Linked DNA regions of Homo sapiens. The protein of the gene in region 4 purifies or fractionates together with the protein of the main gene of each other region. This does not show direct contact. Each region holds a gene or a part of one and is shown on either strand. Other genes may lie near its edges. The genes, in order: SERPINB2, SERPINA1, KLK7 and CA8.

Region 1 (7,033 bases), on a different chromosome or scaffold from region 4:
AAGCAAGAAAATGACAAAGGCTACATAAAATACATACCAAACAAGCCATGGCATAATGGTGAATTATGGTCTTCCCATTGAAATTAGGAGACCTGGGGTAGGGTGGGAGTGGAGGTTGGCTATGGAAGGCAGGTGCTGAAGGGGGAAAGAGTGCAGACCCCTTTGTCCACGCTTACTCCCCAACTCTATCCACCCTCTTGTACTCCTTGCATTATAGAGACAGAATAAAAGGAAAGAGGTTTGACTTGGGGGATAGTGTCTCTGGAAAACAGTTGCATTTGTTTTCCTGATTTATGACTCTGAGATTGGGACATTTGCAATGGGAAGAGGAGGAAGCCCCAGAGGGTACAGGAAGGGCAGCTGTTACGCAAGGCCAGCCCTAGGGAGCTGGTGTGGAATTCCAACTCTGCTTTTATGAACTGTTGAATTGTAGAGAACTGCTTTGAAAGTGACTTCATTACTTGTTTGGGATCCAGCCATTTCAATTACAGGTTTCACTTACTTCCCGGAAGCTCGCAGACTTCTCACCAAACAGCTTATTGACACTTTCCAGTAAATAATTCCCTGTGGATGCATTGATTGCAGAGCTGAGAGAGCGGAAGGATGAATGGATTTTATCTGCAGCTTGTGCCTTGAAAAGAAAGAAGGAATTCTTTATATATAACACAGAACTACTAAACAAGATAGTTCTTAAGCCATGGTAATAGTTTTTGAATACAATCATGAAATGCTATATTAATACATACTTTATTTTTGGTACATTAGAGGAATCTTTGAGAAAATCATTTCGATAAGGATGTGGTACATTAAAACTAATAAGGTGAATTTTAATTTCTTTCCAATTTTGCTCTGTCTATGGATTGGATTTAACCAGGTGACCAACAGCCTAGAAGAAAGGCCCCTTCTCAGTTTCCTAAACTTCAAAGTCTCTAAGGAATTTTTGTTGTATTTATAAGATGGATAAGTTCTGGGGATCTAATGTACAGTATAATGACTATAGTTAATAAGATTGTGTTCATTAATAGTTATAGTTAATAAAACTGTTTACTTGAAATTTGTGAAGAATATATTTTTTAAGTGTCCTCACTATACATACACACATACATACAAATGGTGGGTAATTGTAGTGATGGATGTGCTCATTAATTTGACTGTAATCATTTCACAATGTATAGGTATAGCAAGTCATCACACTGTACATCTTGAACATGTACAATTTTTATTTGTCCATTATACCTCAGTAAAGCTGGCAGGGAGGAAATGTTGCCTTAGTAATGATCTTACAAAGTTCATATAGCTTCTCTAGATACCTATTTTATGGGGCAAACTATGCAGTGGAAAACATGGGTTTTAGAAAACCACAAAAGTGAATGGTTATTTCAGTTCTCAAACTGAAGTTTGTAAGCACCATGTCAGACACAGGGCTTGGTCACAGCAGCAGCCTGTCCTAGGGCAGGGGACAGAGCCCTCCTGATGGACTGCCAGGTACCACAGAACACCTGGCGGAATCTCCACATGATCAGGATCCTGTCCACCTCCTCTAGCCCATAATTCCCTGGGCAATGGGTAGAAGGAGCTTCAGAGTGCCCAGGAAGAGAGCTTTGGGAGATACCTCTTCATAATCTACCTCATAAGCATGACTGTGGAAGTTGGTTGCCAACAGGAGCAGTCTATACTCAGTTTTTATAATTTAACTGGATAGCTGACATTTAAGGAAATGGAGTACTGAGGAAAGGTGTTACTCCCCGAGATAGCTGATTGATAAATAGATAAGATAGACAGATGACAGAGAAGATAGATGATAAATAGATGATTCATAAAATATATAGATAGATAGGATTGATAGATGTATGATAGGTAAGATAGATGAGAGAGATCAATGATAGATGATAGATTAGATAGATAGAAGGAAAGTTACCTGAAGGTCAGTGATTTCTCATGCAATCATTGGGCCCAGCCTTCTGCCATTTCTCAATCAATTGTCAGTCCCTACCCTCTCTCCTCTGGAAATCCTTATCCATACACGTGTATTCTAGGAGTCTCTACTGTGGATTTATGATAAATTACACATACCTCACCAATGACAGAGAGGCATGAGAGAATTTAGAAGTAAATAGGCTTGGCCTAAAACTCATGAAGTCTGGATTCTGTCCTGGCTCGTCTCTCGTTATGGGTATCATCTTAGGACATGTTTTTCTTAATGACTCTGAGTCTTAGTTTTCTTTCTGTGAATGGGGGAGGGTATATTCGCTTCCTTCCCAGTCTGACACTGTGGCTTTAAGACAGGAAGATTGCAAAAATAAACCACAAAAGAAATTTGGACCAGTAAGTCAGATACCTGCAAAATCGCATCAGGATAACTACCCTTCTGGATCTGCTGCATGAACCCACAGCTGGTAAAGTTCTCTGGAGTCATGGGGGTAACTGCATTGGCTCCCACTTCATTAAACTGAAGCACCTGCAATCAGAATTAGAGAAAACGGTTACACTTGCCCACGGATTTACTGAACTTTTAAAACAGATGGCTATCAGGTGGCTCTAAAATGGTCCTAGATCTTTTCCCTTCCCTTATACATGGGGAACAACCATAGATACTCAATACTCTTTCTGTGTAATATAAAAGTATCAGCCAACCTAAATTTCCCTTATAGAAAACAGCATGAGGTGTTTTAGATTAATTTATATCCTGGCCATTTTGGAAAACAAATTGTTATTATGAAATGATTTAAAACCTCTTCCCCAAATTATCTAAATTATATCCAACCAATAAATGGTCTTGAAAAAAAAATGCCAGTATTTTAAAGAAAGTCACAAGATTAACTCAGAACCTTGTGTGTCTCTCTCTTTTCAGTGGCCTTATACACAAAATACTTTCAATCTGTCAAAAACTACAAGCCAGAGTCAGCTAAGGCATAAAACAGGTCATGCAATATTAACAGGGTTCACCTAAAATATTTACACATACCATATTCATACACAGAGAAATTTATGTCCATGTGAGGGACAAGTTGGTCTGATGACACTGTGAATCTCTTCGTATAGTAAGTAGGCAGTTTTGGCTGACACGGGGAAGCTGGCAGCAAGGACTGTCCCCTCTGAAGCTTCCTCAGATCCCCTTCCCACAACACTGCTGCCTGCCCGCCTTGGTCTGCCAGTCTTAATACCTGCAAGCTGGCCCTGCCTCCCAGCCACCCACCCCATCCCACCTCCTTGGGAACCCTTGGTCCTGCAGCACCTCCCTATGGGGTCCCTGAGGAGAAGCTGATCTGGTAAGTGGCTTGATGGTTGGGGTTCTGCTAATGAAGTTAATTAAGGCAGCCTTGTCCAGCAAGTTGGTGAATTTCTGGGCTAGAAGGAGAGGTGTTAGGGTTTGTGAGGTCTTTTTCTGCTCTTTGAGTCATACATCGTAAGTCCTGCCTAGTACTCTCTGAAAAGAAGTGGTGCAACTCCACCCTCACGTAAAAGAAGAAGATTTCCTACGACAGCTTGGCTGGTTTTCCTCTCTTCCAAGGAAATTGACCCTTAAATCAGGGTTCTTTGGGCTAGCACTAAAGCCTTCCTGAATCAGTGTTAAAGTCACTCAGGGAGATGTCCCTGCAAAAGTGGGACTGTGAGCTGCCCCTAGTCCACACAAAGGCCACAGAGAAAATAGTGAGGCAGTTTGGCCTGGATGGGTCTGTTGCCTCACTGTAAGGAAAAGAGCTTATATCCTAATTCCCACAGACCTATGCCATCCAGGAGCTTATATCTTTTATGTATTCTTTTCTTTCACTACAAATGTACCACTTCTAACAGCTACAGCAATTCTCAACTGTGTGGCCTCTTCTTGCCCTGATTCCCTCATCTGTAAAATGAGTACGGTAATCATCGTACCTACCTCATAATATTTTGTCTTATGTGAGTAAATTTATAAGAAGTTCTTAGAAAGATGCCTGGCTAAGGCACTAATAAGTATTGGTTGTTATTATAGCAACTGCTACTAAGTGCCTTACATAGTACCTCTAATCTTCACAACTTTCTTGCATGCTACACATTTTTATTCCCATTTTGTAGATGAGAAAACTGAGATGCAAATGGTTTCAATGTCCTCACACACATGTAGTAAGGAACAAAGCCATGACTCAAACACAGATACGTCTGTCCCCAAAGTCTGTGCTGCTTTCTCCAGCCAATAAATGTCTTTTTCTTTTTATCTGGGAAGCAATCATATTAACATTTGAATTTCAAAATCTACACATGCAACAGAGTTGTCAAAAGACGATATATATAGAGTCTCAAAAAAAAAAAGACTATATAGAATCCTCGCATAGTCCCAAAGGCTTAAAGCACTTCTTAGACACAGAAAAGCTGTCTTGTGTCCAGAGCAATCAGTTTATTTTCCTCTAGTACCAAAATCAAGATTTTTACTTTAACAACCCAGAGCACTTCATTTAGCATTTGCTCCCAAAATATATTGCTACTGATTCCTTTACATTTAAAAAACAAAAAAACCTAGGCCGGGTGCACTGGCTCACGCCTATAATCCCAGCACTTTGGGAGGCCGAGGCAGGTGGATCACAAGGTCAGGAGTTTGAGACCAGCCTGGCCAAAATGGTGAAACCCCATCTCTACTAATACAAAAATTAGATGGGCATCGTGGCAGGCGCCTGTAATCCCAGCTACTCGGGAGGCTGAGGCAGGAGAATGGCTTGAACCTGGGAGTTGGAGGTTGTAGTGAGCCAAGATCGCACCACTGCACTCCAGCCTGGGTGATAGGGCGAGACTCCATCTCAAAAAAAAGAAAGGAAAAAAGAAAAAAACCTAAGACCTGATGTTTCTAAAGCTTTTGTGCCAATTTACTATCTTTATTCTTTCAAGGCAAAAAATAAAAAATAATGGGGAAAGAATATTGCAAAAGACTACTTGTGTCAGGGAGTTGAGCAATTGAGTTTTGTTGTAAGTCTCAATGTTTAAACTGTCACAAACACAGAGATTGATTCACCCATCCCTTGTCTTCCTGCAGCAATATTGGCCAATGCTCTCTCTGTGAAACTTCAAACTTCAAATGAGGCCCACCTTACATGGGTCACCATGTGCATGGAAAGAATGTATTTACACTCAGGTACATTCTCGTGGGAAACTGGAAACCAGCCGGCGGCATCTTGGTGTGACTGCATGCACAATGCATGCGTGTCCTTAAAGCATTTAATGTTAATGTTTGTATGTGTGAATGCAAAGGAATTTTAATGATATCATGGCCACATCGAGGTCACTAACCTTGGAAGTAACATGATCACAAGAATTTTGTATGTGCTGAGTGACTATTACAGTAACGATTGCAGTGTATAATTGAAGTAGTCCGGCATAATTTCAAGGGCCCAGACTCCGTGGAAAGAGTTTCCTGACTGAGTCCACGTCCATTCACCAAGGAAGGCAGGCAGTGGCCTTGCAGAAATCCCTCACAATGATGTTGTGCATCCCATCTACCTTGGTTTTCAGGGCTGGCCATAATAATGCCAGGTCTCATTCTGCTACCGTGACCTCACAGGCATGATCTTCTGCAGCTACAACACTATCCATGCATCCTGTGGGTATAGTGAGCACCACCCTGGTATGTTTTTTTTTTTTTCCCTTTGTGATACTCTCTTAACATTATTAGAAGGAATTCTTCATAGGAATAGGGAACAAACACCACAGTGGCACAGTAATGGGAAGGAGCCCAGGCTAGGAGTTAGGAGACAGTGGGGGCTTCTCTGACACCACCAGGGCTCTCATCTGTAAAATGATATCTGTCTTAAAACTGAATGAGATAATGGGTACAAAACACTAACTTTGAAAAATAAGAATATTATATTATTAAAATATAAGATGTGGTCACTCATAACTGTGTCCAGCCTTGCAGGCTATTCAACTCCCATATGCCTTCAACAGCTACAGTTGAGGGATTCGGGGGCTTGGCTGTCTTATAGATTTGAATCTAAGGAATTTGTGTTGTAAGGATCAGTGCTTCATTACCTGTGATGATTGCTGACCTCCTGAGTTAAAATGTCTTTAGCATAAAACAAGAGCAGTTCTCCAATTCCATTCAGGAACTACTCGGCCCAAATGTGGAGCTTCAGCTCAAACTCACCTTGGCCATCTGGTCTTCGGTGCTGCCCCTGGAGCCCATGTAGACCATGGCCATGGTGGACGAGATGCTCCATGGGGAGAGGAAGAGGTTCTGGGTGGGGCTTGCTTTTGCCAGATGCTTGAATAAATTGAGGGCAAAGAGTGTGTTTGCCACACAAAGATCCTCCATTGTTTCAATCTAGAAGCAAAGAGAGGAAGAAAAAAACAGCTCTGAAACATAAGGTAACATTTTGGGTGAGGTCAGCAACAGTAGGACAGGCTGCATTCTGTGTAGGGACAGATTCCCTGTCTGTTCTTCCTCATGGAACAACATGAGGCAGGTCAGGGACAGCTTCATGGACATACCACCTGTGCAGCCGTAAAAAGCCCCTTGTTTAGCCAAATGCCCTCCTATCGCCATCTTGAAATTCTTGATAATTTTAAACAAAAGGCCCACATTTTCATTGTGCACCAGACGCTGTAAATTACATAGCCAGTCCTGAGATACATGAAGTGTTTTGTATGATGAGCAGCGACACTTTGTGGCATTCCATAGAATAACAATGACAATATATAGGGACAGGAGTAGGAATTGAAGCCAGATAGGCAGACCCTAGGATCATGCTCTCAACTTCTATGCTGCCCCCACAAGCACAACGCACACATCCACACCACACACACTGCCACACAGGAAGATATACACATATTGAAATATATGCCACCTGCATACATACCTTGTTGCATCTGGTAAGACGGTCAATCTTCTTTCTGCTTTCCTGCTTCTAAAGTGACTTTGACTCATTGTTTGAAGGTTTGGAGTTTCACCCAGCCCCTATCCCAGAACCCCTTCCCTATATGCACCACACATACCACAGCCTTACTAAAAAAGACTTCCTATACTGGGGTGTTCATTACTGGGAGGACTAGAAGACCCCCTTCTTCTGCC
Region 2 (7,503 bases), on a different chromosome or scaffold from region 4:
AGGCGAGAGCCCCTGCACCCAGCCAGGATTCTTGGTTAGAATGGCATCTGGGTTCAATGTAGCAAAACAGATGGAGAATTCCCATGGCTAGGCATGAGACAGGTGCCCTCCTAGACAGGGGAATTCTGGGCTCAAAGGAGGTGGAGAGGCTGGTGCAGGGAGGGTGGCGAGGGGGTGACAGCTGGGAGGAGCACATTCCCCCACACCCATCCATCTTTCCTGGTGTCACATCACCTACTCTGGTTTCCTCCTTTCACAGTGAAGAGTTTGAAGCCCAGAGAGGGTCAGGGCCTTGTTGAGGCTATACAGCAAGTCAGTGACAAAGCTGGAACAAGTCTTGGCTTTCCCAGCACTCAGATCATGAACTGAGACAGCTGTGTCCTCAGATCTCAGATGATGAATGTCAGAATTGGGCTGTGACATTGGTCTCAAGCATCATGTTGGGTTCATTATGCCTCCCAAGCTGTTCCTTATAACATCAGGACTCCAAAACCTGCTCTCTCCTGGCCCTTCTATCAGAGGCAGCACCCTGCACTCCTAAAAGCTAGTGCCTGGGAGGGCGACTGGAGAGGAGAAAGTCGCCATCTGGCCAAGTACCCCATGGTGTACGGACACTGAGGCCAAGCTTTAAACCAAAAGAATGAAGGCTTCATGGTGACATTTCTGGGATCGGGGCAGGTGGGAGCACTCTTTGCGGGGCCAGGGACAGGGAAGCGAGCCACTCCCTGCCTAATCTCACACCATTTCTACCCGGGAGCATAAAATAAGGGACCAAGAGCAACCCGGCAGGGTGCAGGGAAGAGAATCTCGCCTATGGTCAAACAACCTGTTGAACTGGGCAATAAATAAACCCAAGTGTGACCAGGCCCTGTCACTTACTGGCAGGGGGCCTGGGGTAAATGACTTCACTTCTTTGAGCACTAGCTTCATAGCTGTACAATGGAGAAAAGAATCCTTTGGACAGGGATGAGGAATAACTGACGTAATGCATGAGTGGGCACCAGGTGAGGAAGCCCTCCCTGTACCTGCACACAGGTTGAGCTCCTGCCCGAGAGATGGTAGATTTCTTCCCGGAGAGCCTGCTGCACTCCCCAGGACCATTTCAGCAGGAAGGGGCTCCTGCTCAGCAGTGAACAGCATCTGAGTTTGGCAAATTTTCCATTAAATTATCCAACTGTTTACTGCCTGCCAGCTGCCTAACCCTATGCTAAGCAAACATCAGCCTCAGCGTCACCATCATTGCCACACTTACTAACACCTGGTGTTTTACAGGCACCGTATCATCTAATCTGTCCTCAAAGCTTACCCTATAAGGTGCAAATTATTAGCCCTATTTTATAGATAGAAAAATTGAGCCCCAAAGAGCATTAAATAACTCACTAAAAATCACAGAGCTACTTGCTTACAAAACTGAGATGTAATCCTAAATGTTTTGTCTGGGATTAAACAGATTTCACTCCAAAACCTGACATTGAATCATCTCTGTGTACAAAGCTGAAGCCAGAAGTCTTGAATCAGAAAACTTCAGAGGCAGCCTGGCTAAATGAAGAGGGGAGCATCAGTCTGTGGCTAAAATTAAAGGCTCTGAGGCCAGATTGCTCCACGTCAACTTGCTATTAGCTGTGTGACCTTGGACAAGTTACTTAACCTCTCTGAACCTCAGTTTCCTGGAGATGAGAAAGGTGGACTTTGTCATAGAGCTATTGTGAAATTAAATACACATAAAATGCCAAGAAGTGCCTGCTGCGCAGCAAGTTCTCGAGAATACCAGTTCTTGCTGCTATTGCTGCAGGTCTTTTAGAGGCGTTCTATAGGAAACTGGCCACCTTGGCCTTGGTCATCTTTTTGACCTGTCTCCAAAACTCAGTGCAGGAAAAATTAAATCCTTCCAACACTTCAGAGATCAAGGTCGGGTGGGGTGAGGGGAGGGGACAGAAGTCAAAGGTTATCATGTTTTGCCCAAGAGAACAGAGAGGTTGAGCAACTGTCTGAAGTCACCGAGCATCAGAGAGGCCTCAAGTCCAGCCCAGGTTTCCTGTTCCCCATCCAGCGCCTGAGACCCAAGAGAAACAGTGACACTAGGGCCAGGTTCAAGAGTTTGGGGACTGGAGCCAGGTGCCTGAGCCCGAATTATGGATGGTGTGTGATTTGGGGCCAGTTATTCACCTCTCTGTCCCCATCTTCCTCATCTGTAAAATGGGAATCACACTAGTAACTGCCTTGGAGGGTTATGAGGCTTAATCACGCACTGAGCTTAGCCGTGGCCTGGTGCAGAGCGATTATTCAGGAATGCCAGCTTGAGCCCTGGGTGACAGTGCCCCTCACAGCTTCCTGTCCTCCACTGGGACAGGAGGGCCCAGAGGTCCACGGTGCATGGGGAGGCCCATTTTGATGTAAGGCTGAGGCCTGGCACAGGTCTGTTCCTGGTCATATCTGGAGGGGATGGAGAATGTGAGCCGGCGTTCCTCCCCACCCCTCTCTGGACCTTAACCTCCTCATCTATAGAAGGGGAGAAAGATGCATGCCCAAGCAGTAGGAGAGGTGGTGAGGCTTATAGGAGACAACAGACAGGAGCCCCCGACAGACAGAGGAGCTGTGCAAACAGAAAGAAATGGCTGCGCTTTGTTGCTGTTGCTGTATCTTGGCTGGTGTCCCCCATCCTGGGGTGCCAGGACTGCAGACCTAGACACCCTCATCCACTTCTGCTTACAGGAACCAGTGTATCCACCAGGAGGTACCGAGGGGGGACCGGGCAGGACTGGGAAACAGGACACAACCCTCATGGCTGCTGTTATTATGAAAATAGGAGCTCAGCTGCAGCCTCTCCATCTGCCCTGCACCTCAGCAGGCGGATACCCACTCCACAACCCCCCTCCTGCCCCAGACCTGCTGCCTGCCTGGGCCATGGGGAGCTCAGAAGCCTCTCCAGAACCTCTCGCAGTGAAAGGCATACTTACGATTCACTGTCCCAGGTCAGTGGTGGTGCCTGAAGCTGAGGAGACAGGGCCCTGTCCTCGTCCGTATTTAAGCAGTGGATCCAGAGGGGCAACGGGGGAGGCTGCTGGTGAATATTAACCAAGGTCACCCCAGTTATCGGAGGAGCAAACAGGGGCTAAGTCCACTGGCTGGGATCTGAGTCGCCCGCCTACGCTGCCCGGACGCTTTGCCTGGGCAGTGTACAGCTTCCACTGCACTTACCGAAAGGAGTCATTGTACCTGGCTCAGAAACCACAGCGTCCTGTGTCCAAGGTGGAGGGGGTGGCGTGAGTCAGACAGTCTCTGGGAGAGTACCACTTAGCTGGCCCTCTGCTCTCACTGCAGAATCCTTAGTGGCTGTTCCACTGGTAGCAAGATCTACCATTTACTGAGTCACCCCAAAATGCCTGATGCTGAAGACTTACTGCCGCCCTGGGAGATCAGAGTGGGTTAGAGCCCATTTGACAGATGAGGAAACAGGCTCAGAGCGGAGAGACCGCTCATCCAAAGTTACCCAGTCAGCCTTAGACACAAACACCCTCTTGATGGTCCCGATGGAAAAATGGAGCATGACTGAGGCAGACACAACCGTCAGGCTGGCATGGGGGGCCGTGAGACAGGGTAGAGGTGGGGAAGCACATCTGTAAAGAAGAGCTGTGCTGCCTCAGGCAGGCCGCTTCACCTCTCTGAACCAGGAACTGTTTCACCTGCATCCCAAAGAGTTGGAAGTTTCATTCCCAAGCATGCTTGTGAAGTGCCTCGGGTGAAGTGCCTGGCACACAGTAGGCTCTTTATGTGGGTCTGCACAGCCCTCTGCTTAGTCTGCCCCCCAGGCTGCTCAGAGCAGGAGGAGGTTCAATTTTGACCAGCCTCAGGCCTGTTTCTGTTTTTGCTCCTGGAAAACCAGTGTGATCCGTATACAGCTTGGAGTTTCTTTGGATACATGGCCCCCACTCTGGGGTTGTTGGAGGCCTTTGGAGACTGCTGGGGGTGGAGGGGAGGGGAGGTACAGGGTTGAGGCTAGTGGGGCCCCACTTGATTGCAATCCCTTTAAAAGCCTAAATCAGATTGCATCGCCCGCTGTGCAACCCGCAAACCTGCTTGGGAGCTGGCGTACGTGCCGTAGATACTTGCAGAGTGAATGGATGAGTGCATTTTTGCCCCTTCTGTCATTCACCAGTCCCATTTATGCCTCCACCTTGGGGCTCTACCAGGCGAGTGACCCACAGGATCCTCCAGCACACACATTCAGACCAGGGAACCCACTTACTGGCTGTGAGGCCTCAGGTGAGTTGTTTAACCGCTCCGAGCCTCAATTTCCCTATCTGTAAAATGGGGATGGTGACGGTATGTACCTTGTTGAGCTGCTGTGAGGATTAAAATGCAACAGTTCAAGGAAAGCTCAGAGACGGGTACTGGGTGTGCCCAGAAAGCCCCTCCTGATGCTGCCCTCCCTCCCCCGTGTCAGGGGCTGGTGTCACTGGGGTGGGGTGGGCCACACTTGAAGAGCTTTCCTCCAGGCAGTCTCTCATTCAGTTACCCTGTGAAGGGAGTAGGTACCACCCTCCTTTCAGGCAGCGGGAAACTGAGCTCAGACTCCCCTCCCCTTCTCTCTGAGCTCCCTTCCCTGCAGCTCCATCCCCTGGCTTCAGGGCCCCTGTCCTTCCCCTGAGCTGGCTGAATGGATATTCCGCTGCTCTACATCCACTCACAGCTCCAGCACTGGGCTGTGGTTGAGGTCGCCTGCCCTCGGTAGCTCCTGGGCATTTCTTCCCCTCTCTGGGCCTTTGTTTTCCCATCTGCACAATGACCCCCACTCTAAGCCCTGCTGTCCCTCCCACCTGTGGAACTGAGTGAGCAGCAGCAGCAATGTCCCACCTTTCCTGCTCTCCTCAAGCTCTCCTCAAGCTCTGTCTCTTCTGGCAGGCACAGGAGAGTGGCCTGAAGGCTGGCAGGAGGTTGCCGCCCCTCCAACCTGGAATTCCTGGCAGCAGCAGCGGCTAGGCCTTCCTCGGAGGCCCGACCCCCTCCTCCTTCTTGGTTCAGCTCAGGACTCTGAGGGTTGCTGCGTGGAGGCAGTGCATGCCCTGGGCACAGTGCCCAGTTCCTGCCCACCCAGGAAGTAGACTTCGGGTGGAGGCAGTAGGCTGGGGAGGGGCGGGGAGCTTGGACAGGAAGGAGCCTTGCTCATTGCCCGGCAGACACAAGACTGGGCCCTCATAAACTCAGACAGCCCGGCATGTCACCTGTTGTACCTGCCCTTTCAGCTCTGTGACCCGGGACAAGTCACCCTCTCCCTTTGAGTTGCCGCAAGAGGTACAGTCACACTGCCCAGAGGATTACTAGAAATGACAGGCCTCGCCCTCCTGGCACAGACCTGGCACCAATAACTGGCAGGTTTCTGGGGCCAGCTGCAGAGGGAAGAGGACTGAGCCACCTATGAAATGCCCAGTGGGCAGCCCCACAGTTGGGCAGGTCTGTGTGCACTGGGGAGGTGTGTGTCATAGGACCTGGCTGGGTGCAGAAGGGATTGCAGTGGGGAGCTGGGGCTTTTGGAGGAGGAATGAAGAAAGCATGGGTGGGAGCAGGTGAGGCAAGTAAGGGGCTCAGAATTTGGGGTCCTGCTCTTTTGGCAGGGCTCTAGGCTCAGCCCCCGCCCTGCTCTGGACATCCATCCTGGGAGGAAGGGCTAGGATAATCTGGAAAAACGCACCAGGACAAAATCCCGGGGGTTGTGGTGGGAGGGGTGGGAGTACTCAGTGGCCATTCACAAGGATACTGTGCCCCCAGGAACCCCAGGACATGAGGGGGAAAGTCTTGTCCACCTGGTTACTTCCACAATTGTCTATTGCAGCATCTGGGCTGATCCCCCCAGAGGAAATGCATCATGGGAAGATCCTGTGAGCTGGTCATGAGTAAGGGGCATCTGGGGGAGGCCCTGCCCCACCACAGGGCCCTGCCTGGAGATGGGAGCCTCGTGGTATGGGCTGGATAGGGATGTGAGAGTCGAGATTTGGGGTCTGCAGCAAGGAATCGGGTAAGGGGGTGAGGTGTGCCAGTGGCCCTGGGCCAAGTAAATCAAGACTGAGTGGCTGGTCAGGAGAACAACAGTGGACTTCATGGGAGCTGAACTCATTGGCAAAGTGCCCCCGGAGAGTGCTGGCCACCCCACAAACACACACACCCCATGCACACCCTCACTATGCACCCTCCTTCCCAGGCACCAGCTTCCTTCTTTGAGAGTCAGTGCAGGTCACTGGTTAAGGCGTGGGTTCGGGATCTAATATCTGGGGCCAAGCCTTAGCTCCATCGCTCTTTTTGTGAGCTCTTAGACAAGCCACTTAACCTCTCTGTGCCTCGGTTTCCTCATCTGTGAGATAGGAAGACTCTAAGAAGAGTCACTTCCATCAGGACTGTGAAGATCGAATGAGATAATAACATTTAAGCACTTCGGGCAGCCTCTGGCATGTGATGGGCCCCAAGTCAATGCTAACCACCAAAGGCCATGACCTTTGGGGATGTGTCCTGGCTCTGAAAAACCATATAGATGGGTCTCAGGGGTCTAAGTGGGGGAACAACTGCTGCGTTTGGCCCCAGATTTGGGGAGCAGCACCTGTTGTTGAGGGACACCTCCTCAGATTCAAACTTCCATTTTTTCCAGAAAAGGCTGTCAATCCCCTCTTTAGGGGCCGTGCTCATTTTGGCTTTCCGAAGGTGAAGGGCCAGGTGCCTTCAGCATCTTTCTGAGCACCTGTGACATGCAGAGGATGTGGGGTGACTGCAGCTAGGTGGACTTGGATCCGGGGGAGGCCCTCAGTTCTCTGAGCCTTGGTTTCCTCATCTATAAAATAGGGATAAAAGTTTCTTTCCCACATAGCTCTTCTGAGGCTTAGATGAGGCGATGCTGGTGGGGTGTTTAACACAGAGCTCTGTTAGCATAATGGACACTTGTGTCTGTCTTCTTATAACTCATTTAATGAATGAATGAAGTTTGCACCATTTTTTCACCTCCTCCAGTCACCTTTCAAATTAGCCAACTTGCAAAACCCCAGCAGACACACTTTCCTTCTGTGTGTAATCTCCTGAGCCACTTCCTGTGTGTTGGGGAGGGGAGGGGGGATTTCTGCATTTTCTGGAACTATGTGGCCTACTCACAGCTTCTTCTTTTTTTTTTTTTTTTTGAGACAGAGTCTCACTCAGTCACCCAGGCTGGAGTACAGTGGCGCAATCTTGGCTTACTGCAAACTCCACCTCTCGAATTCTGGAATTACGAGCGATTCTCGTGCCTCAGCCTCCAGAGTAGCTGGCATTACAGGCATGTGCTACCAATTCCAGTTAATTTTTGTATTTTTAGTAGTGACAGGGTTTCACCATGTTGGCCAGGCTGGTCTCAAACTCCTGGCCTCAAGTTATCTGCCCGCCTCGGCCTCCCAAAGTGCTGGAATTACAGGTGTGAGCCACTGTGCCTGGCCTTTACTCTTTATCCTTACTCAGACAGAGAAAAATAAGGCAAAGCTATACATTATA
Region 3 (6,956 bases), on a different chromosome or scaffold from region 4:
AGACCCAGAGAGAGGGGAACAGAGACCAGAGAGAGAGGGGGACAGAGCCCCAGAGAGAGGAAGACAGAGAGCCAGGGAGAGAGGGGGACAGAGCCCCAGGGAGAGGGGGACAGAGATCCAGAGAGAGAGGAGGGGGAACAGAGACCAGAGAGAGAGGGGAACAGAGACCCAGAGAGAGAGGGACAGAGACCCACAGAGAGAGGAGGGGGAACAGAGACCAGAGAGAGAGGGTGACAGAGACCCAGAGAGAGAGGGTGACAGAGACCCAGAGAGAGAGGGACAGAGACCAGAGAGAGAGGAGGGGGAACAGAGACCAGAGAGAGAGGGGGACAGAGACCCAGAGAGAGAGGGACAGAGACCCAGAAAGAGAGGAGGGGGAACAGAGACCCGGAGAGAGAAGGGGACAGAGACACAGAGGGGAACAGAGATCCAGAGAGAAAGGCAGACAGAGACCCAGAGAGAGGGGGACAGAGCCCCAGGGAGAGGGGGTACAGAGGCCCAGGGAGAGGGGGACAGAGATCCAGAGAGAGAGGGGGACAGAGACCAGAGAGAGAGGGACAGAGACCCAGAGAGAGAGGAGGGGGAACAGAGACCTAGAGAGAATGGGGGACAGAGACACAGAGAGAGGGGAACAGAGATCCAGAGAGAGGGGGACAGAGACCCAGAGAGAGGGAGACAGAGAGCCAGGGAGAGAGGGGGACAGAGCCCCAGGGAGAGGGGGTACAGAGGCCCAGAGAGAGGAGGACAGAGACCCAGAGAGAGGAGAATAGAGCCGTAGGCACAGAAAGACTGCCCTTCCACCCCCATAGCGAGCTGGAGACGCTGGTGCACCTCCAGCAGAGACTTGGGCGGCACCTACTTCATCTTGCAGTGGGCGGCAGTGAGCACCCAGCGCTCATTGACCAGGACGCCTCCGCAGTGGAGCTGATTGCCACTGAGCAGGGCCACCTGCCATGGGTGGGAGCCTCTTGCACATGGGGCGCCATCAATAATCTTGTCACCCTGGGCTGGATGGAGACATGGAGGAGCACGTGGGTAGCTAGCATTAGGGGAAGGCTGAGGCTGCACCTCAGGGATTCCCAGAGTCAGAGATGGACAGAGACAGATGAAAATGTGTGGAGAAATACAGAGAAAGCAAGAGATAGGGATAGAGACAGACAGAAGGAGCCCACTCAGAAACCCAGGAGGCGCATCTCATCTGGGGAACCACAGAGAGACCCTGAGCACAGGAGGCAGGGCCTGGAGGGGACAGAGACCCCCTGAGTCAGCAGAAGCAGGAAGAGCGGGGGCTTCAGCCGACAGTCTGGTCCTCCCAGGATGGAAGCTGTTTGAGGAGGGAAGGGTTCTGACTCAGGGACTCCTTGGAGAGGGTCAGTGGGGGCCCTGAGGTGAGGTCAGACTTCCCAGTCCAGCTTTCACCTTCTTCTCCTGCAGTTTCCAAGGCTAAGGATAGCAGTAAGATCTGCAGGGGCAGGAGAAGGGATCTTGCCATGGTGCCCTGCTGAGCCGCTCAGGGGCTGCCAGGCGAGGAAGGGCCTCTCCTGCTGGAGCTGAGAAGGAGAAAGCATTCAGGCCCAGCCCCTCCCCACTCAGACCCAGGGGTCCAGGCCCCAGCCCCTCCCCCCACAGACCCAGGAGTCCAGGCCCCAGCCCCTCCTCCCTCAGACCCAGGGGTCCAGGCCCCAGCCCCTCCTCCCTCAGACCTAGGGGTCCAGAACCCCAGCCCCTCCTCCCTCAGACCCAGAAATTCCTTTCTCTGGCCTCTCCTTCCTTACACTCAGAAGTCCAGACCCCTAACCTCCTCCTCCCTCATACCCAAGAGTCCAGACCCTAGCACCTTCCTCCCTCAGACCCAGGAGTCCAGGCCCCCAGCCCCTCCTCCCTCAGACCTAGGAGTCCAGGCCCCCAGCTCCTCCTCCCTCAGACCTAGGAGTCCAGGTCCAAGTCCCTCCTCCCTCAGGCTCAGGAGTCCAGGCCCCAACCCCTCCTCCCTCAGACCCAGGAGTCCAGGCCCCCAGCCCCGCCTCCCTCAGACCTAGGAGTCCAGGCCCCCAGCTCCTCCTCCCTCAGACCTAGGAGTCCAGGTCCAAGTCCCTCCTCCCTCAGGCTCAGGAGTCCAGGCCCCAACCCCTCCTCCCTCAGACCCAGGAGTCCAGGCCCCAGCCCCTCCTCCCTCAGACCCAGGAGTCCAGGCCCCCAGCTCCTCCTCCCTCAGACCCAGGAGTCCAGGTCCCAGTCCCTCCTCCCTCAGACCTAGGAGTCCAGGTCTCAGTCCCTCCTCCCTCAGGCCCAGGAGTCCAGGCCCCAGCCCCTCCTCCCTCAGACCCAGGAGTCCAGGCCCCAGCCCCTCCTCCCTCAGACCCAGGAGTCCAGGCCCCAGCCCCTCCTCCCTCAGACCCAGGAGTCCAGGCCCCAGCCCCTCCTCCCTCAGACCCAGGAGTCCAGGCCCCAGCCCCTCCTCCCTCAGACCCAGGAGTCCAGGCCCCAGCTCCTCCTCCCTCAGACCTAGGAGTCCAGGTCCCAGCCCCTCCTCCCTCAGACCCAGGAGTCCAGGCCCCCAGCCCCTCCTCCCTCAGACCCAGGAGTCGAGACCCCCAGCCCCTCCTCCCTCAGACCCAGGAGTCCAGGCCCCCAGGCCCTCCTCCCTCAGACCCAGGAGTCCAGAACCCCAGCCCCTCCTCCCTCAGACCCAAAATTCCTGTTCTTCAGATCCCTAGAGACCCAGGAATCTAGGCTCCGATCTTGCCCTTCCCTGTGGAACCCAAACTTCTGACTCTGTAGTTCGTTTTTCCCTAAAAGGCCCCAAATTGCAGACTTCCAGGCCCTCACTGCTCAGGACCGGGAGTCTAGGCTGCAGCCCCTACCTCTCGAGAGCAGAGTCAGGCTTGGAGCCAGCATCACCCTCTCCCCTACAGGTGCACCCTTGATGAAGCCTCTTCTCACCTCGAGAGGATCTGATGTGATCCAAGTTCCGACTTGGGCTGGCACACAGCTGGGCTCCAAAATCTTCATCCCTCTGCTGGGCCGTCCTCTTATATCACCCCCCGCCCCATGCCCGGCCCCAGCGCCCTGGGGTGCAGGCGGAGCCGACTCTGGGACACCCCCGCCTGCATTTGCGGTTCTGGTTATCTGGAACCCTGACGCAGCGAGAGCAATTGGCACCACTGCACTCTCTCTCCACCCTCCCTCCGAAGGACGGGCGGTGCCCAGCTCCTGCGCCCCCGCACATTCTGGTCCCACAGTCCCTCCTGGCTGCTCTCGGGGGAGGGACCCGGTGCGCTGGGTCTGAGGGGCAGGAGCGGGATTCAAGCAGTCGCTGAGCTCAGAGAATAGGCTCTGGCTCGGGTCCTTCTCTGGGGCGGTTTTCTTTCTTTCTTCCCTCCTCCCTCCCTCCCTTCCTTTCTTTTTTTTGGATGGAGTCTCTCTCTATCGCCAGGCTGGAGTGCGGTGGCGCGATCTCGGCTCACTGCCAGCTCCGCCTCCCAGGTTCAAGTGATTCTCCTGCCTCAGCCTCCCGAGTACCTGGGATTACAGGCACGCACCACCACTCCCAGCTAATTTTTGTATTTTTAGTAGAGACCGGGTTTCACTATGTTGGCCAGAATGGTCTCGATCTCCTGACCTCATGATGTGCCCGCCTCGGCCCCGCAAAGTGCTGGGATTACAGGCGTGAGCCACTGCGCCCGGCTTCTGGGGCCATTTTCTTGCCCTCACCCCCTCTCAGGGGTGGCCTAGACCCTACATCCTAATTCTGGCCCGCCTGGGGGAACTTGTCCAAGCTGATCCCAGTCGTGCCTGTAATTACGCCTGAACCCATTCCCAACTCTAACAGAGAGGTGTAAGTTAAAAACAACGCTTTCCCTAACCCCACCCCACTAATATTTGCCATGTTTAGGATCTATGTTCTTATGGTCATTTTAATCATGTTATACATAGATTTCTTTGTATATTATGTATTTATAACAAAAATGTCTGTACTTAACATTATCTAATAGAACATTTTTGAGGGCTTCATTTATTAATTTATAAGCAAATATTTATTTTTCTTTTTTTAACTTTTCAGTTCGGGGGTACATGTGCAGGATGTGCAGGTTTGTTGCGTAGGTGAACGTGCGCCATGGGGGTTTGTTATACAGATTATTTAATCACCCAGGTATTAAGCCTAGTACCCATTAGTTATTTTTTTCTGATCCTCTCCTTCCTCCCACTCTCCACCCTCTCATAAGCCCCAGTGTGTGTACCCAAAGGAATATAAATCATTCTGTTTAAAGACACATGGACACGTACGTTCATTGTAGAACTATTGACAACAGCAAACACAGGGAATCAACCTAAATGTCCATCAGTGATAGACTGGATTAAGAAAATGTGGTACGTATACACAATTGAATACTACGTAGCCATAAAAAAGAACACGATCATGTCCTTTGTAGGGACGTGAATGGAGCTGGAGGCCATTACCCTTACAAACTAAAGCAGGAACAGAAAACCAGATATGGCATGTTCCTACTTACAAGTGGTAGCTAAATGATGAGACTGCATGGACACATAGAGGAGAGAAGAATCTTTCTTATTTTTTTTTTTTTTTGATGGACTCTGGCTCTGTCACCCAGGCTGGAGTGCAATGGCACGATCTCGGCTCACTGCAACCTCCACTCCCCCGTGTTCAAGTGATTCTCCTGCCTCAGAGTCCTGAGTAGCTGGATTACAGGCGTGCACCACCATGCCCAACTAATTTTTGTATTTTTAGTAGAGATGGGGTTTCACCATGTTGGTCAGGCTGCTCTCCAACTCCTGACCTCAGGTGATCCACCGGCCTCGGCCTCCCAAAGTACTGCGATTATAGGCCTGAGCCACCGCGCCCAGCCAAGGATTTTTGCTAAATGAGTAGATTATAGCTGCTCTTGCCACAGGGGAGGAAAATGGGTAACTATGTGAGATGATGGACATGTTCATTTGTTCAGCTATAGTAATCATTGTCCTATGTATATACATCGCATATGATCATATTGTACACTTTAAATATACACAATAACATTTATTTTTTAAAAAGAGGAAAACTTTTCCCTCTTTGTACATTTAGATTACTTTTCCTTCCTTTATAATGGTTGTGTAATATTCCATACTATACTTGTATCATGATGCATGTCATCTGCCTCAAATTGAAATACACTTGGATAGTTTTAATTATAATAATGCTGAGATGAACTTCTTTGTACATTCATCTTTGTTCATTGTAGTCATTCAAACAGCATCCATTGAGCATCTACTCTGTGCCAGAAACTATTCAGGCTCTTGGAGACACAGCAGTGATAAAACAGAGAAAAATTTCTGTCTTCATAGAGGTTTTTGTTTTGTACTGTCAGGTCAGCACAAAAATAAGCAAATAAAATGTAGAGTTTGTTAGGTGGTTGTAAGCGCTATAAGGGAAAATCCAAGCAAGGAAGAGGGTTGGGGAGTTACTGATTCCCTCTACCCTCGAGGATCCCTGAGGTTATAATATCAGGAAGGTTGGCTGCAAAGACCCCACGTGAAGGTGATATTTGAGCAAAGTCTTGAAGGAGATGGTGGAGGGATCCAGGTGGCTGCTTGAAGGTAGTGAGTTCCAGGCAAAGCGAGCAGGCAGGTGTGTTAGCCAAGGAGCATATCTGAAGTGCCTCAGCAGACAAATCACTGCGACCAATACAGAGTGACCAAAGGAGATGAGGGCAGGTGATGAGGCCAGAAATATAACAGGACTCTGATGACATGCGGTCTGAAAGGTCTTTGGCTTTTATTTTGAGTAAGACAGGAACCATTGTTGGACACACTTCTAAAGTTGGAATTGACCTCAACCTCTAAATTATATCCCCAAAATGGGATTTATTTCTCCACCCTGGACCTAAAACTTATCTCAATCCTGACCCCAACTCAATTCTTTTTTTTGCTTTGTTTTGTTTTGTTTTTGTTTTTGAGATGGAGTTTTGATCTTATTGCCCAGGCTGGAGTGCAGTGGTGCGATCTCAGCTCACTGCAATCTCCGCCTTCCAGGTTCAAGCAATTCTCCTGACTCAGCCTCCCGAGTAGCTGGGATTACAGGCATGTACCATCACACTTGGCTAATTTTTTTTTTTTTTTTTTTTAGTAGAGATGGGGTTTCTCCATGTAGGTCAGGCTGGTCCCTAACTCCCGACCTCAGGTGATCTGCCTTCCTCAGCCTCCCAAAGTGCTGGGATTACATGTGTGAGCCACCACGCCTGGCACCCCAACTCGATTCTACATTTGACCCATAATAGTAGACATTATTGTTGTGTCCCCAGGCATTCACTCCTTCTGCCTTTCTATCAGAGGCTCCATTTTGTTTGGATAATACTTTATCCTCATCAGGACTATAAGCCTCAATGAACCAAGCATTGAAGCCATATTTCGTTTGCTTAATTAGTTGGAAAATGGACATGTGCTGTTCTTCTGGCCAATGAGGAGGAGGGGAAGACCACTGAGGCACTTCTAGGAAAGACTTTCTCATTTTCAAAAAGAGGCACTGAAAGGGGACTTTTTTCTTCTGCTAGATGGTGTCTTTTCTGGATGCAAATTCTGGAACTGTGGCAGCACCCCAGGGACCACAGAGGGAAGTGACCAGAGGACTAAGTCAAAACACTGCAGGTAGCCCACCAGAGAGGTGAGGATCAGCTGGGTCTTTGATGAAGTCACTGAGCTGGTGAATTAACCAACGATGGAGCCTCTTCATGTCATGATTTTTCAGATTCCCCTTCTGGGTTAGAGTTGCTTGGTCCTTGTAGCCAAAATCATCTTTATAAGACCTCAATGTTCAATCAGAATATTGACTCAGATCCCAAATCTGATCCCAAGCCACAAATCCAAATCCGATTCTAACTTGATTCCATATCTTGAAGCCACATAAATCAACAAACTCAACCATGCCTCCAGTCTTAGCTCTCTTCCCAACCCTCATCCCC
Region 4 (7,033 bases):
GTGGGTCAGAGTTCCACCCTGAAGGGAGCAAGAGTGCACTGACCATGGACCCCAGTCTGTCTCCCTGGGGGACTGCATGGCGTCCACTTGAAAGGCCTGCAAAAGAGCTGTGCCCTTGGGCAGACTCGAAGGGTTCAGGTAGATCAGGAAATGGTGGGAGATGTTGGCAGAAATGCAGAGTTGTTCTGTTCTAGAGGGTGCAGTGGAAGATAAGGAGAGATTGAGTTAGAAGTAAAAAACAAAAAAAAAACAGGTGGTTCAGGGCTGAGATGCCAGGAAAGGAGAACGGACCAAAGTGGTTTGCATTTCCAGTGGTGGCGAAAGACAGCAAAGGTGAGAGGTGAGAAATGAGTTGTTCTCAAGGTTCCTGGTGGACTCTTGGTACCAGGTTGTGTTATCTGAACAGCTGCTTGCACGGTTTTAGCAGCTGGGGTGTGGAGATTATCATCAGTACTTGCTTTTTGCTGGTCATCATTTCTTCATACACAAATTTGGCAAGGAAGGAAAAGAAAGAGATGGCATAATAGCAGAGTTTATAGAATTTGCAAGATATGAGGTTTTGCCCATAAAGTAGAGTCTTTATAGATAGAAGGAGCTAGTAATAGTCGTTAAGAGCTACTATATGGAAAAACTATATTTGATGCTGTAGGGCATCCAGATTAAGAATAATAATGGACATTAAGTGAATTATGATGACCCAAGCCTGTTCCACAGTCTTTGTTTGATTTAATCTTATCTTCAACCCTATCATTTTTATCCTCTCCAGCAAACAGCTGAGGAAGCGGAAGGATGTAGAGGTTAACTACACTTGCTTAAGGCCACACAGCTAAGAGGTGGCAGAGTCAGGATTGGAATCCAGGCAGTCCAGTGCAAAGTGAGCCTGTTCCTGAGCACCACATTGAGTGGCCTTAGGGTTCATATGTGGACTCTTCAAAGAGTTTACAACCCAACAGGAGATGCCTGAGATGAAAACAGACCCCAAGTGCAGACGTAGGCCTCCCAGTGCTATAGTATGGTTAAACCAGTAAGACAAAAGAGAAGTCCATTTCTCCTGAAGAATGGGTAATGATTTCTGCCTAAAATTTCAGGCTGCTGCCACAGGTACATATGCATTAGGTTTTAAATGTTTTTTTGTTTTTAACTTTACAAAATTTATTTTCTGTTTTTAGAGCCTATCTCGGGAATAATTGTAGACTCTTGGAAAGTAGTTCACGTCTTGATTGTTTAGAGCTGACTGGCCTATCTTAGGTAGAGCGTTTCTTGTCTCTCTCCTCTCCCTTTGGATGCTCTTTCATCTGCATGTTTTGCAGTTAGTTAACATTGGGAGAAACAGAGAATGTAAACATATCTACAGCTACTCTGGCTTCTCTTAGGTCATTCTCCAAATATCTATGTGGAAGGAGAAAAACTGACAAAAGCAATGATTGTTTATTTGAGGTTCTAAATGACCTCCATTACTCTCCTCCATTATCATGGACCACTGGAAATTGGTCAGATTTCACTTAAAAGTTTTAAAGCCAAAGTCAAGAATATTAAATGTTAGAATTTTTTTGTCTCCATTTTTTGGGAGCATTTTATACACTAATAATATATAGTGATATGTTTTTAAAAAGAAGGCTATAAAAAGCACATTATTATTTATTTAAGAATAGAAGGGTAGTTATAAAATTATGTCTAGAAGTAATCAAGAAAGGTCTTGATTTTGGTGAATTTAACATACAAAATCACACACCTGCTTTTCTAAGTTAATATAATTTTTCAGTATTGTTAAAATCTTTATAGCAATGATCTATAAATGCCAGAGTTAAACATGGAAGGGTTTGAACATGTACTGAGTAGTTTTAATTCAAAAATATCCTTGATATTTTTATATTTAACAGTATTTTGTAATTTGATATACTACATATAGCAAAGTGAGTGATTCCTATACACAGTAAAGAGAATTTAGAATGAGTTCTTGGACATTTACGTAACTAATACTTTATTATACTAGGTTTGTCACAACTTTAATTACCTTTAGTAGACATTGACCTAGTTATTAATAAAAGGCCATTTAATTATTCCTCAAAAAGGACATTCAGATGGACTAGAACCGAGTTCTGTTAGTTTTTTTTTTTTGAGACAGAGTCTTGCTGTGTCATCCAGGCTGGAGTGCAGTGGCATGATCTTGGCTCACTGCAACCTCTCCGCCTCCTGGGTTCAAGCGATTCTTCTTCCTCACCCTCCTGAGTAGCTGGGACTTCAGGGGTGTGCCACCATGCCCAGCTAATTTTTTGCATTTTTAGTAGAGACAGGGTTTCACTGTGGTAGCCAGGATGGCCTCGATCTCCTAACCTTGTGATCCACCCAACTCGGCCTCCCAAAGTGCTGGGGTTACAGGCATGAGCCACCACACTCAGCCCTATTAGTTTTTTTTTAGTTAAAGCTAAACACTGAAAAATGTTGTGGTTGTGGTTTATGCTTTATGTTTTTCAGATAGGAAAGGAACATGTTGGCTTGAAGGCTGTGACTGAAATCCTCCAAGATATTCAGTATAAGGTAAGTCATTATTTAAAATAATATAGAAATACTGGTTGTGTAGGAGCTCCCTGTGACCACCTGCGGGCTCGATGCTGTGTTAGAAGGACTCACAGATCTCAGAAAAGCTGCTGTCCTTGTGGTTATGGTTTATTACAGTGAAAAGAAATAGGTCAAAAAGCAGAGGGAAAAGGCGCATGGAATGAAGTCCAGGGGAAACCAGGCACAAGCTTCCAGGTGTCCCCTCCCAGTGGAGTCACTTGAGGATGCCCCTAATTCTCCTAGCAATGATGTGTCACAACATGTGTGAAGTGTTGACAACTACGGAAGCTCACTCTAGCCTTAGTGTCCAGAGATTTATTAGGGGTCAATCATGCAAGCACTAAACGCATGCAACATAGCTGACCTCAGCTACTCACTCTCTAGCAGCAGCCGTCTCCCTGCCCTCTTCGCCATAAGTCACATTGTCAGCATCAGCTTATCTGTTCCAATTGGTACAGTATGTCTCAAGGCCTCAGACATGTAACAACAGGAGTTCACCATAAATACAGGATGGCCCAAGGCTGCAGGCACACAGAAACAGTCTTATCAGGTAGAATATTCCAAGCTCAGAGGTTATATCCCAGGAGCAAAGAGTTAGTCCTGAAGACAGGCCTTTATATGGGATGTGCAGGGTTTGAGCAACTCAGGCTTGCTGAGTTAACCCTTTCCTACCTGCATGCTATAGGAAAGTTGTATAAATGAAACAAATAAAAATTTGGGGAATCATATTTCAAAGTATTTATGTTAAATAAATTTAAAAAAAGAAAACAAGTACACATATGTGGTAAGATAATATCCAAGAGAAGGTGATCCACATGACCCTGCCATGATATGGCCTAGCATTGCTAGGAAGCCAATGCCACCACCACGCCCAGCTAATTTTTGTATTTTTAGTAGAGACAGGGTTTCACCATGTTGGCCAGGGTGGTCTTGATCTCTTGACCTCATGATCCACCCACCTCGGCCTTGCAAAGTGCTGGGATTACAGGCGTGAGCCACCATGCCTGGCCCAATGCCAGTCTCTCTTATAAGCAGTGCCTTCTTGGCTCACACTTAGCTGAATGTGAGTGGCCTTGGGGAGGGGAAGTAGTCTAGTCTTGTAGGGCTGCTGGAGATACAGAGCAGAAATTGAACTTGTTTAATTACAGAGGATCCAGAGACCCAAAGCCAGTTTTAAGAAAGATCAATTTGGGAATCAAGTTTGATTAGCTTTATACTAGCACAGCCCAGGGTATCCTGAACCAGGCAGAACCTCCACTGAAGATCTCCTGAGTAGGTTTGGAAGGAACCCAGCTTCCAAGGGATGCCCAGTCCAGATAAAAAAAGCTGATAAAAAGACAATAAGGGCACATTTTGACTTATATTTGTACAACTGCAGTGGACTGAGAAAATTTCCTTTATTTCATCATCTAATAGGACACCAGTCATTATGGAATTCAGGGGGATCGGGGAGGCAAGTAAGCTAGATTCTTTAATGTTTGAAATAGTCCCAGGGAGTCAGGAAGGGACTTGGAGGTTATGCAATAACTTTCCCTATTGCATCTGTATCAATAGAGAAAAATCTTTTAAGAAACATCTGAGTCACATGACAGGACTATTTTCCTCTAAAGTCTAAGCAATTTAAATGACATGATTTAAAATGATGATCTTAAATGTGAATTGTTGAATAAGAGCACAAATGATTCCCTTGAAATTTGTATCTAGCTTTGATAAACACTGATCGGAACAGAATATTTCCATCTATATCAGATCTCCCTTTCCAGATGAGGAGAGCATCTAGCATAGATCCCAGAGCTGAGTTACCAAATCCAAATAGGACAAGACAGGAAGTTGCAAGCCTGGTTGTAATGCCGGAAAGGTTAGGAGCTGAAATGAAAGCAAGCAGGAGGAAAGGCATTTTGAAAATTCCCCCATCCAGGGTTCAGGCATTTTACAATGAGAATTTAGCCCAAATCTCTGTTATGAATGTGCTCAGAGCAGAAAAGGTAACTGACATGGGGCAGATGGGGCACCAAGTGTAGGTTCCACACCAGGACTTACAGGGAGAATTGAACTGTGGTAGCAAAGAAAATAGCCATAGAATTAGAGCAGGAACCAGACAATGTTACTCCAATGAGAAGGTGGAAGGAGATACCCACAAGTCTGTGGGACCTGATGAGGCCATTCAGAAAAGACTTCATTCTAATTTTTTAGTTCTAATAGATTTTTTATTCTAAAATCTAGAAATATTACATTAACATTGGGTAAATATTTTTTTCTTTTTCAGGGGAAGTCCAAAACAATACCTTGCTTTAATCCTAACACTTTATTACCAGGTGAGTATTTACCTGATTGCATAAAATGAATTTTAACTGTGGCTATAGTCACATTGTTTTCTTCAGACTATGTAAAACTATATATTGTTAATTAATAAAACTTATTTGCAATTTGTATTCTGTTTAGCAGATACCATTTCCAGATTACTCTAAATATGGAAGTAAACCTTTTGAAATAATAAAGAGACACTTTGCCACTAGTTCCATTGATCCATGAAGAGCTTTCGTAGGATTGTCATTTGTAAAAATTGCTACCTCTGTGTAAAGCATCAGTATAATAAAATAACTTTGGCTGGGTGTGGTGGCTCATGCCTGTAATCCCAGCTACTCAGGAGGCTGAAGCAGGAGAATCGCTTGAACCCAGGAGGTGGAGGTTGCAGTGAGCCGAGATTACGTGACTGCACTCCAGCCTGGGTGACAAAGTGAAACTCTGTCTCAAACAAACAAACGAACAAACAAAGAAAAAACCTTCATGTACTTCTAAGATTGATCAGTGGAGTTCTTAATCTTTAGAGTAAAATAAACTTTGTATCTAATTTTATAAGGTTACCTCTCTGCAGTAATACTATTATTATGTATTATTCCACTTGTATTTCTGTACAGATAACAATTATACATTAAGTACTCAGAATATGATTTAAAGGTTGTTGTATATAAAATTTTGATCTTCACATTTCTCTGCCCAAATTATGTGCTGTCCCTTAGTGTTTTAAACAAAACCAGTTGATGCATTGTATCTTCTATTTTCTACATTTAATTGCTCTACAACAAACCAATTTCTATCGTATGTTAACCATTTATCCATCATATTAGTCATAAATTCCTCTAATGCAGAGCTAAAGGATTTCATAAGAATGACTCATTTTGTTTTATTGTAATATGATTTTAGTATTTTGCTGTTGCAGAAGCAGTATAGTGGTAGCTAGAACTGAATGGTTAAAAATACAGGCTTTCAGACAGACATGATCATACCTATGTAATCCCAACACTTTGGGAGACTGATGCAAGAGGATTGCTTGAGGCCAAGAGTTTGAGACTAGCCATAGCCAGACCTTGCTCTCAAAAAAAGAAGAAATAATTGCTGGCTGTGGTGGTGTGCACCCATAGTCCCAGCTGCTTGGGAGGCTGAGGTGAGATGATCGCTTGAGCCCAGGAGTTTGAGGCTGCAGTGATTCATGGTCACACCACCACACTCCAGCAGCCTGGGTGATAGAGCCAGACCCTGTCTCTTAAGAAAAAAAAAATACAGGTTATGAAGCCAGATTGCCTGAATTTGAATCCTGGCTCTGCCAGTGATTATTAGCTGAGTGACCTCAGGCAAACTACTACTCTTTTGAGATTCTGTTTCCCCATCTGAAATATAACATTAATATTACTACCTATCTCACTGGTTTGTTGTGAAGGTTAAATGAATTAAAGTAAATTGCTGGCACGTCATAAGCATTCAATAAATATTAGATATGAAATAGGTAAATTCTTTAATAAAGTGAAAAAACCCAAAATATAGATACACTTCTAAAGTGATTAAACTTGACAGGTATCTATAGTAATCCATTGATAGAAATCACTGTAAATAATAGAGAATTCATCATGCTTTTTATCAATTATTTTCTCCACAATGAGTAGTGTAAGACTGTGGGGCTCTAGTTTAAAAATGACATCCATCTTAGAAGCATCATTTGGACAGTTTGTAATTTTGAAAATTGTTGTTGGAGTCATCAGGATTGTTATTAATTCACTTGCCTTTTCCATTACATGTCCACGTGGCTGTGCAGACCCTCTGCTGCGGGATTACTGGGTGTATGAAGGCTCTCTCACCATCCCACCTTGCAGTGAAGGTGTCACCTGGATATTATTCCGATACCCTTTAACTATATCCCAGCTACAGGTGAGTGTGCTACTTTGAATCTTTCAGAGTGAAGTTCTGAGTTAAACATTGTTTCTGAGAAAGGAAAATGTCTGTTTTGTGTTTTAGCTTCCTGTAGATCAGTCATACCTTTCCAGATGAAAGTTAAATGGCTTGAACTAGTGAAAGTGATTGAAAGGTCAAGGATGGACAGAATCCAACACTAATTTATGGTCTATATTTTAAAAGTTAGTCTTTAGAGAGTTAATAGAAATCACTGAAAGAGCAAAACTTTTTATTAGTCTAGTTATTT

Evidence for each region.
Region 1: the proteins of CA8 (region 4) and SERPINB2 purify together in Homo sapiens (affinity purification with mass spectrometry; 3 studies listed by BioGRID and IntAct, with this or other methods). This does not show direct contact.
Region 2: the proteins of CA8 (region 4) and SERPINA1 purify together in Homo sapiens (affinity purification with mass spectrometry; 3 studies listed by BioGRID and IntAct, with this or other methods). This does not show direct contact.
Region 3: the proteins of CA8 (region 4) and KLK7 purify together in Homo sapiens (affinity purification with mass spectrometry; 3 studies listed by BioGRID and IntAct, with this or other methods). This does not show direct contact.

What each region holds. Positions count from the first base shown.
Region 1 is NC_000018.10:63,890,689-63,897,721, reverse strand, and holds part of SERPINB2 (plasminogen activator inhibitor 2), read right to left. Parts: exon of another isoform or gene 6,822-7,033; intron 6,287-6,821; 5' UTR 6,278-6,286; coding exon 6,110-6,277; intron 5,102-6,109; exon of another isoform or gene 5,003-5,101; intron 3,270-5,002; exon of another isoform or gene 3,186-3,269; intron 2,459-3,185; coding exon 2,339-2,458; intron 632-2,338; coding exon 503-631; intron 1-502. UniProt on the Homo sapiens protein: Inhibits urokinase-type plasminogen activator. The monocyte derived PAI-2 is distinct from the endothelial cell-derived PAI-1.
Region 2 is NC_000014.9:94,385,603-94,393,105, forward strand, and holds the start of SERPINA1 (alpha-1-antitrypsin precursor), read right to left. Parts: upstream 3,001-7,503; 5' UTR 2,958-3,000; intron 1-2,957.
Region 3 is NC_000019.10:50,980,908-50,987,863, forward strand, and holds the start of KLK7 (kallikrein-7 isoform 1 preproprotein), read right to left. Parts: upstream 2,944-6,956; intron 2,909-2,943; exon of another isoform or gene 2,865-2,908; intron 1,551-2,864; coding exon of another isoform or gene 1,493-1,550; coding exon 1,420-1,492; intron 1,008-1,419; coding exon 860-1,007; intron 1-859. UniProt on the Homo sapiens protein: May catalyze the degradation of intercellular cohesive structures in the cornified layer of the skin in the continuous shedding of cells from the skin surface. Specific for amino acid residues with aromatic side chains in the P1 position.
Region 4 is NC_000008.11:60,222,378-60,229,410, reverse strand, and holds part of CA8 (carbonic anhydrase-related protein), read left to right. Parts: intron 1-2,475; coding exon 2,476-2,538; intron 2,539-4,825; coding exon 4,826-4,874; intron 4,875-6,649; coding exon 6,650-6,762; intron 6,763-7,033. UniProt on the Homo sapiens protein: Does not have a carbonic anhydrase catalytic activity.